2 separate regions of the Homo sapiens genome follow, and region 2 is linked to region 1. A link means that fine-mapping ties the variant in region 1 to the plasma level of a protein whose gene starts in the linked region. Region 1 holds a variant in brackets. A gene starts in the other region. All regions are shown on their forward strands. Region 1 overlaps SPMIP7 (sperm microtubule inner protein 7). Region 2 holds the start of TCL1A (TCL1 family AKT coactivator A).

The links. PIP is the posterior inclusion probability: the model's chance that the variant is causal. Protein levels are from antibody-based Olink assays in UK Biobank. Linkage for the fine-mapping came from a reference panel and not from the study's own genotypes, which makes the PIPs less certain.
Region 2: TCL1A starts here. The variant in region 1 is fine-mapped to the plasma level of the TCL1A protein (UK Biobank, PIP above 0.99).

The regions. Positions count from the first base shown.
Region 1 is chr7:50,145,201-50,155,240 of GRCh38, forward strand. It overlaps SPMIP7 (sperm microtubule inner protein 7), which reads left to right. Exons shown (of 9, transcript NM_001161834.3): 8 at 6,250-6,357. Among named protein-coding and RNA genes, the nearest start is that of SPMIP7, 54 kb to the left of the region's middle. RefSeq lists a silencer at 587-636. The variant G/A (reference allele first, on the strand shown) is at 4,387.
Region 2 is chr14:95,712,022-95,720,765 of GRCh38, forward strand. It overlaps TCL1A (TCL1 family AKT coactivator A), which reads right to left and starts at 2,104. Exons shown (of 4, transcript NM_021966.3): 1 at 1,926-2,104; 2 at 199-375. The coding sequence starts at 2,045. LOC107984703 (a long non-coding RNA gene) reads left to right here and starts at 3,462. Exons shown (of 3, transcript NR_148060.1): 1 at 3,462-3,686; 2 at 5,450-5,547. RefSeq lists enhancers at 165-264, 305-464, 505-724, 1,839-1,888 and a silencer at 2,119-2,358.

The DNA of each region.
Region 1 (10,040 bases):
TGCAGTGAGCCAAGATCGCGCCACTGCACTCCAGCCTGGGTGACAGAGGCCCTGTCTCAAAAATGAAAAAAAAAAAGAATCCTGTTTTTCAAATCTGTTGTTTTTATCCTCTTCAGTATAAGATCCATATTCTTTGCAAGGGCTCGGTGAACAAGTTTGAAGATAAGCTCAGTCCCTTTTAGTAACCATTTTACAGTCCCATATAATTTCAGTGCTTTGCAGTCATGAGTCATCAGTACAAGGAACATAAAAATTGAATCATCTGTAATGGCAGATCTCTGTCCTTTCCCAAGGATATGGAAAGAGTGTTGGGGTACTTTTTCTTTTGTAACAGACTCTATTGTAGATTATATATACATATATATATATGTATATATATATATGTGCGTGTGTGTGTGTGTGTGTGTATATGTGTGTGTATATATATATATATATATATATATATATATATATATATATACATCTTACATATATGGGAGAGAGCCCTGAGATCTAACATATATGCATCTCACACTTGTATTTCCAAAGAATAAACAGGCTCAGCAAAGGTGAGGTGCAGGCCCAGCTAACAGAGCAGCACAGCCCATGCCTTCTGAACCCAAACCCAGCACTTGCAGTCACCATTTGCTTGTTTTTCCAAACTAGGCAGCTGCCTATGAGGTACCATCCTCCACTAAGTTATAATCTTTTATCTAAGGACGTTACAAGGTTTCATATTTACTGTGCTTTTTGACCTCAATGATTGCTCTGAGGAAGCATTTGCAAATAAAGAGGAATTGTCCAACATGGACCCCCAGGCAGCCCCTGGCACATGTCTCCCATGGAAAAGGGGGCTTCCCTGTCAGTCGCTGGACTGTGTTGCAGCTTAACAAAATTTTACCACAACCCAGGTTAAAGAATAACTCTATGAATAGTAGTTCCTTAGATCAGCCCAATACTTCTGCCTTTTCAGACTACTTTCACACACTCCCTCATTTGTTTTTCAAATAGTGTGATGAGGCCAGAAATGAAGGTGCAAGTTCTATCCCCATTTTGCAGATGAGGAGGCTGAGGCCAGAGGAAATGGCATAAAGAGCCAAGATCACTCATTTCATGAGTGGTAAAAAGTCCAGAGAACTGGCCTCTTAATCCCCAGGGCAAGCTCTTGCCTTAACTCACATTAAACGTGGCTTCTGCCTTTGGCAAATAATGGGTTCTTGGAGCTTTGAGTTATACTGTTTCTACATTCCCTCCTAAATGGAAGAATTGAAGATCCCAAGAACACAGGAGGAAAGAATATACCCACCAGATGAAGAGAATAATCAATAAACCTGCAATTCCTAAAAAATATCTTGTGGCCACGACATCTTATGATATTCAGAAAAATGCAATCCAGTGATCAAAGTCATTGCAAAATGATTCCAGTTTTATTTGCATTTGTCATTGAACAATAAAATCAGACAAACCCCAACTCACAATGGACTCCTGTCTTTTCCCCTCCAGCCACATCTGCCTCACAGTTCTCTGCAGTCCTTCCCTTCTCTCAGCCCTCTGGGCTGACCCTCCTTAAAGTCCAAGCCTGGAATTTACTACTCTTCCTCCGTCTCCCACTTTCTGCTCCCCTTGCCCACCCTAACTTCCATCCATGACCTGCTGCTCCTCTCACATGGGTCTGCACCTGCTGCATGCTGGGCACTGTGCCAGGCCTTTACTTGCATCACATCGCCCCCAGCACCCTCCAAGGGAGTGCAGCTACCCTGACTGATGGCCAATTATAGGTGAGGATGCCTGAGAAAACTTCAGTTGAGGTCTAAGTTCACACAGCTGGTCAGGGCAGCCCTGGAATTAAATGTGTCTGTCTCACACCCCCCTCCCTTATGTCGCATCCATGGTCTTTGTTCACTTGGGATCTTTAAACATTTAAATGTGCATTTTTTAAATTAAAAGTATTAGTGTGAAAGCTGTTGGGAGCTAAGTCAGCTTGATGTCTGCCTAGAACTGTAGCTGATATAGAATGGCTCTAAATAAAAGACTATCACATTGATTTGAACCTGCACTTACACCCCACCCTGTATAATTGCAGCCCACTGTGAGCTAATGAGGCTCTCCTGGCTGGGCTGGGAGTAATGCCAATGGTCCTTCCTATTCAGTTCAGTTGCACTGAGGTCCAGTTCTACCACTTGCCAGCTTGGTTGGTGCTGGCCATGATACTTAGACTTTCTCTGTGTCAGTTTCTCCATCTATAAAATGGACATGATCATAGGACCTATGACACAAGATTGTTGTGAGAATTAAACAGTCAATTTACATCAAGCATTTAAAAGGGTGCCTGGAATATAGAACATACTCAATGACTATTAGTCATGTTTACAGTGTAGAGTGAGAATTTCTATGCATGCCTAAATTTTATGCACATATACAATACATATATTCTACGTATAACATGGTTTTCTCCACATTTTTCCTCTCATATTTAACTTATATACCATCTGTGCTCCCTTCTTCTGAGTTACTAAACTTCTTGATTTTCTTAAATTACTTAATTTCTATTTTATCATGTTTGGTTGAGAACCAATTCATTGTAGACTTGGGCAATAATATATTCAAATTTATCAATTAGTGAACAAAATCCTGGCTTATTTGGAACTAGGGAGTACAAAATAAGGTATTTAAAGGACTAGAAGCTGTGGAGCAAAGGCAAAAATGAAGACTTCTTATTTTTAAGTGGGTCTCTGCGTCTCTCTACTTTCCTCAAATGGGGAGTGGAATTCTTTGAACATGCGACTAACCTGGAAATCCATTTCCCGGCTTGTATGTTTCAGTATCTTTAATAGCTTTGTTCCCTCCAGCTGAAAAATAATATCTCCTATCAGCAGCAGTCTAAAGTGTTCCCCAGAGAGTATTCTCCTCTTAATATAAGGTCGCTGTGTTGCACTTAAGATGGCAAAATTCCCCTTGTTATGGCCATATGTGCCAGGGTTAAATGGAGTAGATTTAGAAGCAGTGTGGGTGAGGACTTTCGTTTTCAAATATTTGGCAATTTATTATGCAACTGAATTCATTCCCAAGACTGAGCAGCTAATCAGTCTAATCTTCCATGAAATGTTATTATTAAATATGATGTAATCTAATAGCATTAAGACAATGTAACATATGATACCATTTAGCATCAATAACATGCATGCCACAGAGGCACAGAGGCTGTGCAATGTTTTTTATCAAGCCTTTCATGTGATTGACAGATGGCCTGCGTCCATCCCTCTGACTTCTTAACTGCTCTGATGGCAGGATATGACTTTAGAGGCATTTTAATTCTGCAGGTGTTTTCAAAGGCAGTGGAAAAAACCTTTCACACAGATGGAGGGGATTTCCTTTGTAACATGCATGGAAGCTTTAATGAATGGTTGGGGGAGAGACACACGCATGAATAACTTTGCCTCATTCTGGGTTACCTCTCTAACTTACAGCTGCACTTTTCCAACAAAATTCCAAAAAATCCTGCAGGGCACTGCCTAGAATTCAGCAGCTTCAGTTCACTCACCTAGGTCCCTCCAGCAAGCTTGACAATGTGGCTGTAAAACAGAGGCTCCTGAACTTAGCAGCACAGGAGAATCATCTGGAGAGCTGTCAAAAGTCCCAGTGCTCAGGCTACACCACTTACTAGTTACATTAAAATATGGGGCTGGGCCGGGCACGGTGGCTCACGTCTGTAATCCCAGCACTTTGGGAGGCCGAGGCGGGTGGATCACAAGGTCAGGAGTTCAAGACCAGCCTGACCAACAGGGTGAAACCCCGACTCTACTAAAAATACAAAAGTTAGCTGGGCATGGTGGTGCACACCTGTAATAGCAGCTACTCAGGAGGCTGAGGCAGGAGAACCACTTGAACCCAGGAGGTGGAAGTTGCAGTGAGCCGAGATTGTGCCACTGTACTCCAGCCTGGGCAATACAGCGAGATTCCATCTAAAAAAAAAAAAAATGTGGGAGTGGGAGCCAGGCATTGGTACCTTTCAAGATGCCTCTGAGATGTCAGTGTGCAGCACCATTGGGAACCTCTGTCTTAGCATCTTTTCAGCTGTCTGTACTGGATAAACTTTGCAATCCCCATGTGCATGGCCCTTATTTTGTAAATGTTTTATTTCTTTAAATTACTGTATTTCAACTGAAATTAGTTTAGCATCTATTAAGTGCTAACAATTTGCTAGCTGTTTTCATATTCATTGAAGTCTCCTCTAATCCCCAGAGTGCCCCTAAGAGGTTAGTGTTGTCCTCTTCATGCTGCAGTTGACCGAGCTGAAGCCCAGAGAGCTTTCTTCACTGGAGTAAAACCTCACAGTTGGTTAAGGGGCAGAGTCAGGCTTGCCACAGAAGCCTGCTTCTCGATGCAGTGGGCTGCCCCCACTCTTTA[G/A]CTGCCTTATTTTCCTAGTCTCACAAAATCTGTTATTTTGTACTGTTTATTCTGCTGTTGCCATAGATGTAATTTCCCTTCACTTTGTTAGTCTCTGGGTGTCCTTGATTATATCACCTGCAAGCCAATAAGTCATCACCAACAGAGTCATAAATTACACAGCTGGAAGAGAATTAGGAGATTTATTAGTGCAATTCCCTGCCTGATATGTATTTTCCCCCTAACATTCTGATACTTGCACATAATCAATGTGGGAAGGACACCAAGAAATTGCAGTGTGAATCCTTCTCGTTTCCACTTCTCCCTCACCCAAGTCCTTCCGGTTGGTATCACTACCCGGGGTCAGGCTGAGGCTAGAAGGCTCCAAAAGACTATGTCCAGTCCAGATCCCAGAGATGACATGGGGAACCGGGGACTGAATCTTCCTCCCAACCCTTAAGCACACACCCCTTTCACTAACCTCTCTTCTGCCTGCCTTGTCACCTGATACTTTCAGGAGCAACTCCTATAAGCTCCAAATTTTGAAAATTACTCCTAAGATAAGTGGTTCCTGGAGAAGGCTTTGTGTGGCTTACTGGTCGTGTGGGAAGGTCATGGATATAACCAAGGCAGCCATTGAAGAACCATTCCTCCACCACCCACAGAGGTTTGCTTGTTGCTACTGTGTTGCATTTTGTCTGGGCACCAATTTTGAATAGGGAACCATGCCACAAGGATGTCCTGCTCTCAGAGAAAGGTCCAAGGATGGCAAGTGAAAGCCACTGAGATGAATGAAATTTGCAATCTGCCCACTGGCCCTTTCCTCCCTGGGGGCAAGTTCATGATGGTGGCCTTTCTTATTCCTCCCTGAGGCCAGCACAGTAAGCTGAGGCCATGGCGTTGATACGACTCTGCAAAGATGGTAGGCTATTACACAGAGCCTCATGATCTGTAAATGTTGTGTTCTTGGACTTTGAAATACAATTTAAATCTTATTTTCCTCAACTCCTTGCAGCACACAGGATGGAGCTTCATGCTGGGCCTGTCCCATAAGCCTTACCCACCTCCTAGGAAATAATCTGTGTAAACCAACTTGTGTGCTATCATGGCAAGAATATTCATTATTCTTCACATTCCTTCCTCTGAACTACCTACTTAAGCCTTTCTCTTGAATGCTCGTTTGCCTTTTCTGGAGAGAGAGAGCTTTTATACACACTGAAGAACGGCTTCTTCACTCTTGTGTTTTCCTTTTATCTCCCACTGTCCCTGGTGGAGAAAAGAACAGGGAAGCAGAAGAGTCAGTGGAATTCAAACTAAACTGTTTAAATTCAAATTCTAAACAGACTGTTGTAGAATTAATGCTGGTGTACGTTTGTTTCCAATGGGCAATTTTAGGAAATCATCTGAAATTTACAATGCAGTACATTAATGGTGATAAGAAAGATATCTGATAAAAGTAACAATGCTATAAATGTAAGAGTGTATATTCATTAATATTAGAGTCTGCATTACAGAAATATGTGTGGGATACAGGTCTGCCACTCTGTCAAGACCTGGTATCTTCCTTCATTATGAAACAGAGCTCAGCAGTGAGTCATGTTTGTAAAAGACATGGAAATTTAAAATAGCAGAAAAACATGAACTTGAAATAAATTTTATCGACCCCAGCATAGGGCTGTTATCTAAGTACCTGTGCATCAGCACGCCCCAGGCCTGCACTGTTTCCTTTTTGGACAGCCCAAGTTCCACACCTCATACAGGAAAAAAAAAATTAGACTGCATATTTCTTTATATTTTTCATATTTGGGTGCTAGTTACCATGACAATTTCACAAATCATCATTTTAATTTCCTCTTTTCCTCCTCTCTTAACTCTTCACTTTAGTGCTGCAAATATTCCAGGATATACCGGCAAGGTTCATTTCACAGCCACCCACCCAGCAAATTCTAATATTCCATCAACAACCCCATCACCAGATTCAGAACTGCACCGGTAAGTATGAATCCTATTACTCAATTTGCTCAGATACATTAGGAGGGGAAATCCTAATTGTGGTTATTCCATTAAAGAACAATTAAATAGTAAAAGCAAATTTACATTGTTTTTAAAAATGTGGCATCAAGTCCGAAACAGAAAAAAAGATAATTTTCCATTTTCCTACTGAGGGGAACTTTATTAAGCCTTGTATGTGTTTCCTTTTTGAATCTTACCCAAAATTACACTGAAAACCAGGTTTAGATTAATGTTATTACGAATGTGGCCAAAAGGGGCATATGAAGGTATTTCAGGCGCATTAGAGGAATGGCATCTTTACTTCTTAGACTCACAGCTGTGCACACACATCACCCTTCTGCATGATCATCAGAAGACACATGGAACATACATCAGATACATAGTTACTTCTTGTGAACAGCCACCTTACTTTTATAAAAGAAAAAATTCTGTTGAAAGTCACATATATTTTTAAACCCACATTTTGCAAATTGAAAGCAGGAGATGTGGCCAGGCATGGTGGCTCATGCCTGTAATCCCAGCACTTTGGGAGGCTGAGGTGGGCAGATCACTTGAGGTCAGGAGTTCGAGACTAGCCTGACTAACATTGTGAAACCTTGTCTCTACTAAAAATACAAAAATTAGCCAGTGTGGTGGTGGGCACCTGTAATCCCAGCTATTTGGGAGGCTGAGGCAGGAGAATCACTTGAACCTGGGAGGTGGCGGTTGCTGTGAAATGAGAGTGCCACTGCACTTCAGACTGGGCAACAGAGTGAGACTCCATCTAAAAAAAAAATCCCAGAAAACAGGAAATGTTAGATGCAAGGTTACTGAAGATTCCTTTATTTGAAGCTACTAGTGAGAAGGAGCACATGGTTACTCATTTATTATAACTCAAATTTGAAAGCACCTGATGGAATTCCTGGCATTGCAAACGGTTTTGAAAATGCAAACACAGTCTGAACGATGTCTAGTTGTTGGCCCAGTGCAGATGAATATGCTAGCACAGTAGGAAGGCAGACTAGAGGGACGGCAGTTCGCCCCCAAAAGGAGAGCTTGTTCTAGATCACATTCTTTTGGTAGAGGATTCATTCGTTTATCACACATTTTATTTATTTATTTATTTATTTATTTATTTATTTATTTATTTAAGACAGAGTACTCTGTCACTCAGGCTGGAGTGCAGTGGTGCGATCTCAGCTCACTGCAACCTCTTTCTCCTGGGTTCAAGAGATTCTCATGTCTCAGCCTCCTGAGTAGCTGGAATTACAGCCGTGCACTATCACGCCCAGCTAATTTTTGTATTTTTGGTAGAGACAGGGTTTCCCCATGTTGGCCAGGCTGGTCTCAAACTCCTGACCTCAAGTGATGCTCCCGCCTTGGCCTCCCAAACTGCTGGGATTACAGGCATGAGCCACCGTGCCTGGCCTTATCAAACATTTATTGAGCATCAATTCTGGGCCAGGCACTGTTCAAGACACTGAAGATACAGGGATGAACAGACAAGGTCCCAGCTTTTAGGAGCTTATTTTCTGGTACGAAAGATAGACAGTAAAGAAGCACACAAGTAACTGAAGAAATGAAATAATAATCTTAGCTAGTGAAATGAAAAAGAAAGACTGATGTAGGAGAGAGTTCCTCAGAAGGGGCTTATTGAGCTTTGTGGTCAGGGAGAGCTTTCTGAAAAGGTGACTGTCAGGCCATGGGTACCAAGCCAGAGCTCCTGCTCTGATCAGCTTCTTAAAACTTTCAGAAAGGCAATGGCTATAAATGGGAACAGCTGCCATGCATGGGCCTCTTGGGCTGTGGTTTCTGGTCCACCCAGCTGCTAATCCTTTTATTCACTCACCCATTTGCTGGTGGATTCACATGATCTTTTACTAAGTCAATGCATGTTTACTGTGCTCCAATAAATCACAAGAACTGCTTGCAAGGAGCTCACCATCTCTCAATGAGAAATAAACAATTGCAGCAGAGGATGACAAAAAATGTCTTAACACTAATAATCACTTCTGTTGGCTGAGTGCTTTGTGGGTACTAACTCATGTCACGGTCCCAGGAACCCTGTGAGGAAGGGAATGTTACTATCACCATTTTACAGATAAGGAAACTGAGGCACACACAAGCTGCCTGGGGCTCTGGGAGGGGGCACTAGAGAAGACTTCACAGAGGAGTGGCTCAGGCAGTGACTTGAAGGAGTGGGGCTTGGTCCCACGTAATTGAGGGCAGCAAGCATTCCTCATGGCACAGTAAAGGCACCCTAGGGGGTGGCTCTCAGGCCCCGACTAGCCTGTTGTAGGCCACTGCATACAGACAATTCTAAGCATCCCACAAGCCCTGTGTGCCTGGCCTTTTCTAAGGTGCCTGCCAATAGGAGGCTTTATCAACACGTCTCACTTTCTGGATTGGTAATTTTCTAGCATCTCTCCAGGCCATTTGATGAGAAACATTTTAAAAGGAGGTCAATGGCTTTCTAGGCTGATAACTTGCATTTGTTTTTTTCTCAAGACACATTTTTTTCCCAGTCTCAATATTTGCATGTATTTAAAAAATAAATTCTGTTGTGTATATCATCCTAACAACATGATATTATGATGACATATGGGTATATAGTAAAATGGTTACTATAGTGAACACATTAATATCCGTCATCGCCATAGTTACCCATTTTCCCCTTCCCCCTGTGGTCAGAGCAGCTATAATCTACTCAGTTAGCAAAAATCCTGAATACGATGCACTATGACGCCCTGTAGTCCTCATGATGGATCTTATGTCTCAGGCTTGTTTCTCCTGCGTGTCTGCTACTTAGCATCCTTTGACCTACATCTCCCGTTGCCTCACCCCCCACCGAATCCCTCATAACCACTGTTCTATTCACTATCTCTGTGTATTTCACCTTTTATTTCTTTGTTAGATTCCACATGTAAGTGAGATAGTGCAACATGTTTCTTTCTGTGTCTATTAGCAAAATGACTTCCAGGTCCATCTGTGTTGTGCAAATGGCAGGATCTCCTACTTTTTAAGGCTGAATAATATTCCATTTTCTTTATCCATTCATCTATCAACAGACATCGAGGTTGTGTCCATATCTTGGCTATTGTGAATATGATGCAATGAACACAGGAATGCAGATATCTTTATGAGGTGGTAATTTCATTTCCTTTGAGTGTATCTCCAGAGAAGGAATACGTTATTTTTATGTTTAATTTCTTTAGGAAACTCCATACTGTTTTCCATAATGGCTTCACCAACCTACATTCCCATCAACAGTCTATCATTTCTCTACATGCTCATCAACACTTATTATCTCTTGTCTTTTTAATGGCAGCCATTCTAATTGGTGTGAGGTGATATCTCACTGTGGTTTGTATTTCCCCGATGAGCAATGTTAAGCATTCTTTCATACACCAGATCACCATTTTTGTTGTCTTTGGGGACATGCCTGTTCAGGTCCTTTGCCCATTTTTTAAATTGGGTTATATGTTTTCTTGCTATTGAGTTGTATGAGTTCTTTATAAATTTTGGATATTAACCCCTTATCAAATATATGGTTCCCAAATATTTTCCCCCAGTCTGTAGGCTGCCTTTTCATCTTGCTGATTGTTTCCCTCGCTGCACAGAAGTATTTTAGTTTGACATAGTCATATTTACTTATTTTTGTTTTTGTAACCTAAGTTTTGGGT
Region 2 (8,744 bases), not on the chromosome of region 1:
GGAGGTAGGGTTCTGTTAGAGACCTCAGAGGATCTATCTTCTCTCTGGTAAAGTCCTTTAGAAATCTGCACTTGTACATTTCCCCCATTTTTTAATGCTTTTGGGACTGGGATGGAGGGAAGATAAACCACTAAGGCCAGACATGGAGGAGGGCAAACCCAAGATCACCCGATGGACCTCTGGGAGAAAGACACTCACCTTGATGTGGTACACTAAGCGCCAGAAACTGGAGTCTGAGGATCGGTATCGTCCATCAGGGTAGAGCTGCCACATGATAGGCAGCAGGCTTGGGCCTATCTGGGTGGGGGTCATAGGCCTCCCCAGGACGACGTCTTCCCGACGCAAGAGCACCCGTAACTGTAACCTATCCTTTATCTGAGGAGAAGAAAAGGACAGGGCATACTTTCAGGTTCCGCTTGCCAGGGCTTCTCCAGGCGCAGAAAACCGGAATCCCTCCTGCCAGCCATCCACCCATCTGGGCAGGGGTCCGAGTGTGAAATGATGGTCATCACTGTTCCCTGAAGCTCACTTCCTTAGGCCATGCATGCTCCTCTCAGGGACTCTGGCTGGGCCAGGACCACCAGCACACACACGTGTCTAGCCACCCAGACAGGGCCATGAAAGGCACACTTTTTTCTGGCGGGTTGCAGCGGCTCACACTTGTAATTCCAGTGCTTTGGAAGGCAGAGGCAGGAGGATCGCTTGAGGCCAGGAGTTTAAGACCAGCCTGGGTCACAGAGCGAGACCCTGTATCTACAGGAAAAAAAAAAAACAACAAAGAAAGAAAGAGAGAAAAAGAATACTGGCCTTTTCAATGATGTGAGGCAAAATCTGTCCCACAGTTTGCTAGTGGGTTATTTTTTGTGGAGCATGTATCATGATTTTATGAAAAACTGTCTGGTTCGTGGTTTTGGTGTCACGTTGAAGAAGAGATTTCTCAGAGATTTAAAAAAAGAAATCCACTGAATCTTCAAATTATTTCTTCAAATTTTGATTTTAAAAAAGTAAGTATTTAACTTGATTTTTAAAGTAAAAACATATTTAAAAAATTGAAATGCCAATAAAAATGCAGATTTTGTGGTGGTTAAGAGCCTAGAATTCCAACCCCATTACCTACTAGCAATCTTACCTCGGACAAATGTACATTTTTGTGCCTCAGTTTCCCATCTGTAGAGACACAGTCAACACTCAATAATTTTTGATTGCTACTGGACATACGTGTTCTAATATATTTTTTAATTTTTATGCTTTCTTCAGTGTATGTTTGGAGAGAGTTTGAACATTTTTTGACTCTTTTTCATTGAGTAAATCCAAATACTTGTAAAAGACTTATCTATTTCTTTAACAAAAACTTAACATGGATTAAGGACCCATCTTAAGGCATCACACATTAAAAAAGTCAATATTGATTCAATACCGGCGCTTATACTACGACATCACTTGTTAAATTTGTTTTCTAAATAAAGCCCAGAGGTAGTGGAAAATACTTCACACTCTAGGCCAGTGTTTGCTATGCCTGGTTGACCCTAAACTGTTGAGGGTTCTTTTTAAAAATACAGATTTCTGGGACCCACCTGAGATGATTCCGATAATCGGCCATATGGATGAGTCACTTAGAGATACCCATTTTTAAGGATTAGGACCCCGAAGCCCAGAAAATGCCTGCTGTAGTCAACATTATAGTCACACTCCACAGGCACTGGGTCCACCCCTTTGACCGACATTCCTTTGCGGTTTTCCCACCCTTCTTCCCTGCCTGGAGAACTCCTATTCATCCTCCAGAGCCCGGCTCAAAGTGGCTTCATCTGTGGGGATCCTCCCTGCCCCATAGTGAGTGCTCCTTGAGTCCTCGCCCTTCCTAGGGCATCCCAAGCTCCCAGGGGCTGCCCCTGCTGCCTCGCCATCCGCTCCAAAGCTGGCTGTACCTCGATGGTTAAGGGCAGCCAGGCGTGCTGCTTCTCGTCCAAATACACGAACTTCTCCCAGGCCCACAGGCGGTCCGGGTGGTCGGTGACTGCCTCCCCGAGTGTCGGGCACTCGGCCATGGCGTCCTCGGGCCGCCTAAGAAGCAAGAGCCAGAGCCTCTCAAGGCCGCTCGCTGGTCCCTGGGATGTGGGGCCGACCCTTTATATCCGGGCAGCATGCGGCCGCCACCAAGCGGCGGGGCGGGAGGACGGCCTTGGGGCGGGACCCCGGGTCGGGAGAACGACCTTGGGGCGGGGCGTAAGGCAGGATGGGGCGGGGTTTGTGGGGGTCTTGGTGGCAAGTGAGGGTCCCGCGCAGGCGCTACGTCCCGGCCTGACTTGCTCCCTGGAACGGTGGCAGCTCCTGGGAACGCAGACCCGGCCCCAGCTGGCCCGCGCCTTCCTCGAGGCCCCGGCCAGCAGCGACACCGACCGCCGCCCTCTGCTGCTGCTGGAGAGGCACCGGGGTGACCTTGGCCCTTTCTTCTTCTGGAAGACCCCCCCGCTTCCCTCGGCTGCCGGACCGGGACTCTGGGCCTCTGCTGGGAACTCACAGTCGACACCAGGATGCCCAGAGCCAGGACCCACTCCTCATCTTATGGGATCAGAAGAGACCCGCGCGGGCCTGAGTTAGGCCTGGGCTTTCCCGGGTTCCCTGGATCTCCACCAGCCTGTGCCTTTGAGTGTCAGAGTACGTTTTTTGGCAAAGGACAACTCCTGACGCTCCCTCTCCCTCTTCCATACACAAAGCATGCGTTTTCCACAGGTCTGATGTGCTGTGGACATCTAATAGCTATTACAAAATGGAGAATCATGGGTTTTTGCCCTTGGGCTTTGAGTTTACTAGTGAAAGCATAGTTCGAAATGAATACTTAAAAAGAAATCCCTCCTTCCACCCTAAGATCAATGGATTTGAAAAGTGCCTGGTTTATATGATCAAAACCACCCCTCTGTAAATTACAAGCAATAAGGAAAACAATTTCACTTTATTTTGCAGTAACGCATTCCCACTAAGGCAATTAAGAAAGTCATGCACAATGAAAAACATGTGAAACCAGCTCCAGCCTGGTTCAAACATCACCATGGGATGGAGTTTGGTGTCTCATCTTCCAGCTCTTTCCCAGTTCTCTGACCAGGCACTAAGAACATAATTTGTGATCCTTTGAAATATCACCAAAGTGGAAATTAAGAGATCTGATGAGGACATCTGATTCACCTGGCAGCTGGGTATCTGCCTCTTTGCCTATCCAGAGAGCCTAATTCCCAAGAAGGGGCTGAGAGGGCCTAAGGTAGTCGAGACATAATGGGATTTACCAGGAACACAACATAGAAGAGAAAAGCCAAGGGAAGTTGGGGGTGGAGTGAGGGCCCTTGAGCTCAGCAAACCTCTTTTCCACTGTAGCCCTTAGTGGTGTTAATATTTAATATGCAAACTTAAAGGTTTCATGCTGATTTTCCTGTGAATGGCTCTTGACTCCAGACCTAGATAGCCACAGAGCAAGATGACAAGCTCGCTAATAAGCTCTGTTGGGGAGGTCTCAGCCCAGGCCAGAGCTGTGAAGTGAGAAATAAGTCCAGTTTAAATAGTGCTGCTGGGATGGACTTTTGTGGCCAGGGAAGGGGTACCCAGGAGCCAGTGTGGCCACTGACCCAGCCTCATCAATGGCCCTAGGATCCAGAATGCCACAAACAATGGAGCAAGAATCAGATCTGTGTGTCTGGGTAAGCAGAATGTTCTGAGAATATAATTCCTTTTTCCTTCTTTTGTAAGAACAATTTATTTCTTCAGTTTTGCATGAGGGCTTCTTAATATTGAGCAAGAATATACATCATTATTGCGTGAGATTTAGAAAATTATTTGAGAGAGGGTTCCAATAAATGAAAATGAATTAAGGATGTCTGTGGAGTTCATTGGGCAACTTATAGAGCCCTTGAGCTTTTTTAAGTGAACATTCCACAAGAGGGGAAACAGTAGCTATTGCATAGTCTCAGAGCTGTCTCTGAGCCTCCGTGGCATGTTATCTGCCCCATCTAAGGGTTATAAAGGCCATAAGCCTAGCTTTAGAATTTTATGTTCCTTTCCAAGTCTTTGTTAGTCTGATTTCCCTGAGGATAAGCAAATGGATGTTTCACACAGAAAGCTACAGGAAGCAATCATTTTGACAGAATCCTTAATGGATGCGTTCATGTCCTGATTTAGATCTAGTTTTGCCTTTACCACGATCACCTGTGAACTTGACAAATCCTTTGCAACTTGGCCTCAGTGCCATAGTTTTGTAATGAATGGGGCAAAATACCTGCTCTCTAAGCTTGTTTCTAACTCAGTAGGCCCCAATCCTCCTATAACATTGCCTAGTGGGAGGAGGGAATAGTTAAGAAAAGAGATGGACAAAATATATGATGTTAGTTCAGGAATGCCTACAGTTTTTGGTACAGTGGCTGTAGATCAAGGACCCCAGTGGAATTCATGGGAGCCATTCTTCTTGTTTGGGTTCCAAAGAAGGGGTTGAGGAGTAGTCAAGGCCATCAGGATGACCTTGACTCAAAGTGTTGTCCCTGGACCAGCTACAGTAGCATCACCTGGAGCTCGTAAGAATGACAGAATCTGGAGCCTCCCCCAAGACTACTGAGTCAGAATCTGTATTGGAACAAGACCCCCAGGTGATTCACGGGCATGGTAAATGTTGGGCTATATGGAGGGAGGGTCAAGAGGGAGAGATAGGGGGTGTCTGATTCAACACACCAGTGCCCTCCAGATTTCTCCAACTATGACACAGGACTTATATCGGTGTTTGTGTATCATTTACTTCCAGGCTATCTTATTTTCTGCCAAAATCACCTCTAATATATAGAGTGTTTTCCTCTTAAAAGAAAATCCTAGTAACCAAGGTCATCCTCACCAACCCTGGGGTCCTTGATTGTCAATGATTATAGCAAGCTGGAAAGAGCCTATTTAGAGGCTACTTAGGTGTTTAGGCCTTTGGGCCCTATGATGACTGAGCCTAAACCACTAAGAATCACCTGGGAAGCTTTAATGAAACACCTGCGCCTGGATCCCACTCCAAACCAATTACATCAGAATCTCCGAGATTGAGGCTTGAGAAAAGTAGGTGATGCTAACACGTAGGCAGGGTTAAGTACAATTTCTCTAAGATCTGAGTGACTGTTTTTGACGTGTGCACAGATTTATAAATCTAAATAACTACGAAAATGTCAAAGCTATTCTTTCTACCATCAATTCTCATTGTAAACTTCACCCCAACTCCATATTTTACTTCTTTCCCTTTGCCCTACTTTGCTGCTTCCAATCCTTCGTGGTCAGGGATCCATAGCCCTAAGTTTATTGGAATCATAAGGGTCTGAGATCTTGCTAATGTGTAAAACACAGAATCTGTGATATATATGTAGCTATTAAGGCATCCATGCCTGGAGTGTTTTGTTTGTTTGTTTGTTTTTTGAGACAGAGTTTCCCTCTTGTTGCCCAGGCTGGAATGCAATGGTGTGATCTTGGCTCACTGCGACCTCCACCTCCTGGGTTCAAGCGATTCTCCTGCTTCTGCCTCCCGAGTAGCTGGGATTACAGGTATGCGCCACCACGCCTGTCTAATTTTGTATTTTTAGTAGAAATGGGGTTTCTTCATGTTGGTCAGGCTGGTCTTGAACTCCTGACCTCAGGTGATCCTCCCACCTCGGCCTTCCAAAGTGCTGGGATTACAGGCATGAGCCACCGTGCCCAGCCTGTTTTTTTTTTTGTTTTTTTTTTTTTTTTTTTAGTTCCTAGGTCTGGGCCATAGTTGAAATAATTAAGGCTGCTGATCAAGTGAGTTCAGGGTACAAAAGATGTTGTAGCCTTTACTCATAAGGGATGAAATGGTATCTCTAAATTAATGGAGAATCTGAGACAAGGATATTTCAAGTAGAAATTAGGGACTGATCCTACTCTGCCCACTACATAGCTATCATCTCTCTCTTTAAAATTAACAGTTCTAAGGAACTTAAAGCTTCTCCAACTTTAAGGTGTATATGGAGATTTTATTTAAATACAGATTCTAATATGGTAGGGTTGAGGCGATTCTCAAGATTCTGAATTTGTAACATATTCATATCCTCGGAGTTGATACAGGTACTAATGGTCTATAAATCACCTCTGGGTGGCAAGGACCTATACTAACCCCCATGCTACCCTTGATACCCACACAAAACACAAATGAAAAACACAACTCACAACCCCTACTCAAAATGCAGCGAATAGTTGATTCTGCCAAGCTAGCGAGTGACCAAGATGTGATAGAATTGCACTGGACACTTTGAGCTACAACTGTGGTTGCCATTTGCCAGAGGCAAGTTAAAATTGACCTACATTTGTACTGGAAACATTTCTCAATCCTGGGATTACTCCACACCTTGGGTGTTACTGTCCTACTGATGCTATGATGCCTACAGCTTTGTTTTTGTTTTTCTGTTTTGTTCAAAAATGTTTTAGCTATTCAGACCTTTTGTGGTTCCATATGAATTTTAGGATTATTTTTTCTGTTAATGTGAAAGTGTTGTTGGAATTTTGGTAGGGATTGCGTTGAATATGTAGGTTGCTTTGAGTGGGATGAACATTTTAATAATTTTAATTCCTTCAATCTATGAACATGAGATATTGTTCCATTCGTTTGTGTCTTCTTCAGTTTCTGTCATGGGTATTTTGTAGTTTTGCGTGTTCAGATCTTTCACCTCATTGCTTACATTTATTCCTAAGTATTTTATTATTTTTTGTAGCTATTGTGAATGGGATTTTTAAAATTTCTTTTTCACATAGCTCATTATTAGTGTATAGAAATGTTACTGATTTTTGTATGTTGGTTTTTGTATCCTGCAGTTTTACTGAATTCATTTATCAGTTCGAACAGCTTTTGGATGGAATCTTTAGGAGTTTTCTATACATACAAGATCATGTCCTCTACAAACCGAGACAATTTAACTTCTTCCTTTTCATTTGGATGCCTTTTCTTTCTTTTACCTGTTGCTCTGATTAGGATTTCCAGTTCTGTGCTGATTAGAAGCAGTGAGAGTGAGCATCCTTCTCTTGTTCCTGATCTTAGAGAAAAAGCCTTAAACTTTTTACTATTCAGTATGACATTAGCTGTGGACTTGTCATATATGCTTCATTGTACTGAGGTACATTCCTTCTAGACCTAATTTGTCGAGAGTTTTTACCTTGAAAGGATATTCAGTTTTGTCAAATGCCTTTTCTGCATCTATTGAGATGATCATATGGTTTTTGTCCTTCATTCTGTTAATGTGATGTGTTACTTTTACTGGTTTGTGCACGTTGAACTATCCTTGTATCCCTGGGATAAATATCATTTGATAATGATGAATGATCCTTTTGATGTGCTGTTGAATTCAGTTTGCGAGTATTTTGTTGAGGATTTTTACATCTATATTCATCAGGGATATTGGCCTGTAATATATTTTTTTCTTGCAGTGTCCTTGTCTGACTTTAGTATCAGGGTAATGCTGGCCTTATACAATAAATTTGGAAGTATTCCTTCTTCTGCAATTTTTTGGAGCACTTGGGAAGGGTTGGTATTAGTTCTTTAAATGTTTGGTAGAATTCAGCAGTGAAGCATCAGGTTGTGGGGCTTTTCTTTGATGGGAGACTTTTTATTACTGATTCAATCTTCTCACTTGTTATTGCTCTGTTCAGATTTTTTGTTTCTTCATGATTCAGTCTTACTAGGTTATATATGTCTAGGAGTTCGTCCATTTCTTCTAGTTTATCCAATTTGTTGGCACAACATTATTCATAGCAGGCTCTTATGAACCTTTATATTTCTGTGGTATCAGTTGTAATGTTTCATCTTTCATTTCTGATTTTGTTTATTTAGGTCTTCTCTTTTTAGTCTAACTAAAGCTCTATTGATTTTGCTCTTTTCAAAACATCAACTCCTAGTTTCCTTGATCTTTTCTACTGTTTTTCTAGTATATTTCATTTATCTCTGCTCTGATCTTTATTATTTCCATTCTTGTGCTAATTTAAACCTTAATTTCTTCTTCTTTTTCCAGTTTGTGGAGGTATGATGTTAGGTTGTTTATTTAAGATCCTTCTTTTTTGATGTAGGCATTTATTGCTATAAACTTCCATCTTAGAACTGCTTTTGCTACATCTCATATGTTTTGGTATGTTGTGTTTCCACTTTCATTTGTTTCAAAATATTTTTAAATTTTCCTTGTAATTTCTTCTTCAACCACTGGTTGTTTAGGAGCATGTTGTTTAATTTCCACATACTTGTGAATTTTCAAAATTCCTCCTATTGATTTCTAGTTTCATGCCATTGTGATTGGAAAAGATACCTGATGTGATTTCAATTTTTTTAAATTTGTTAACACTTGTTTTGTGGCCTAACATATAATCTATCTTATAGAAGGTTCTCTGTGCTCTTGAGAATATATTCTGCTTATGTTGTATAGAATGTTCTGTATATGTCTGTTAGGTCCATTTTGTCTAAAGTGTAGCTCAAGTTCAATATTTCTGTATTGATTTTCTCTCTGGATGATCTCTCCATTGTTGAAAGTGGAGGTATTAAGTTCCCTTACTATTATTGTATTGCAGTCTATCTCTCTCTTCAGGTCTATTAATATTTGCATTATATATTTAGATGCTCTGAGGTTGAGGGTATATACATTTGTAATTATTTTATCTTCTTGATGAATTGACTCATTTATCATTATATAATGACCTTTGTCTCTTTTTATAGTTTTTAACTTAGTCTCTTTTTTTATGTAGTC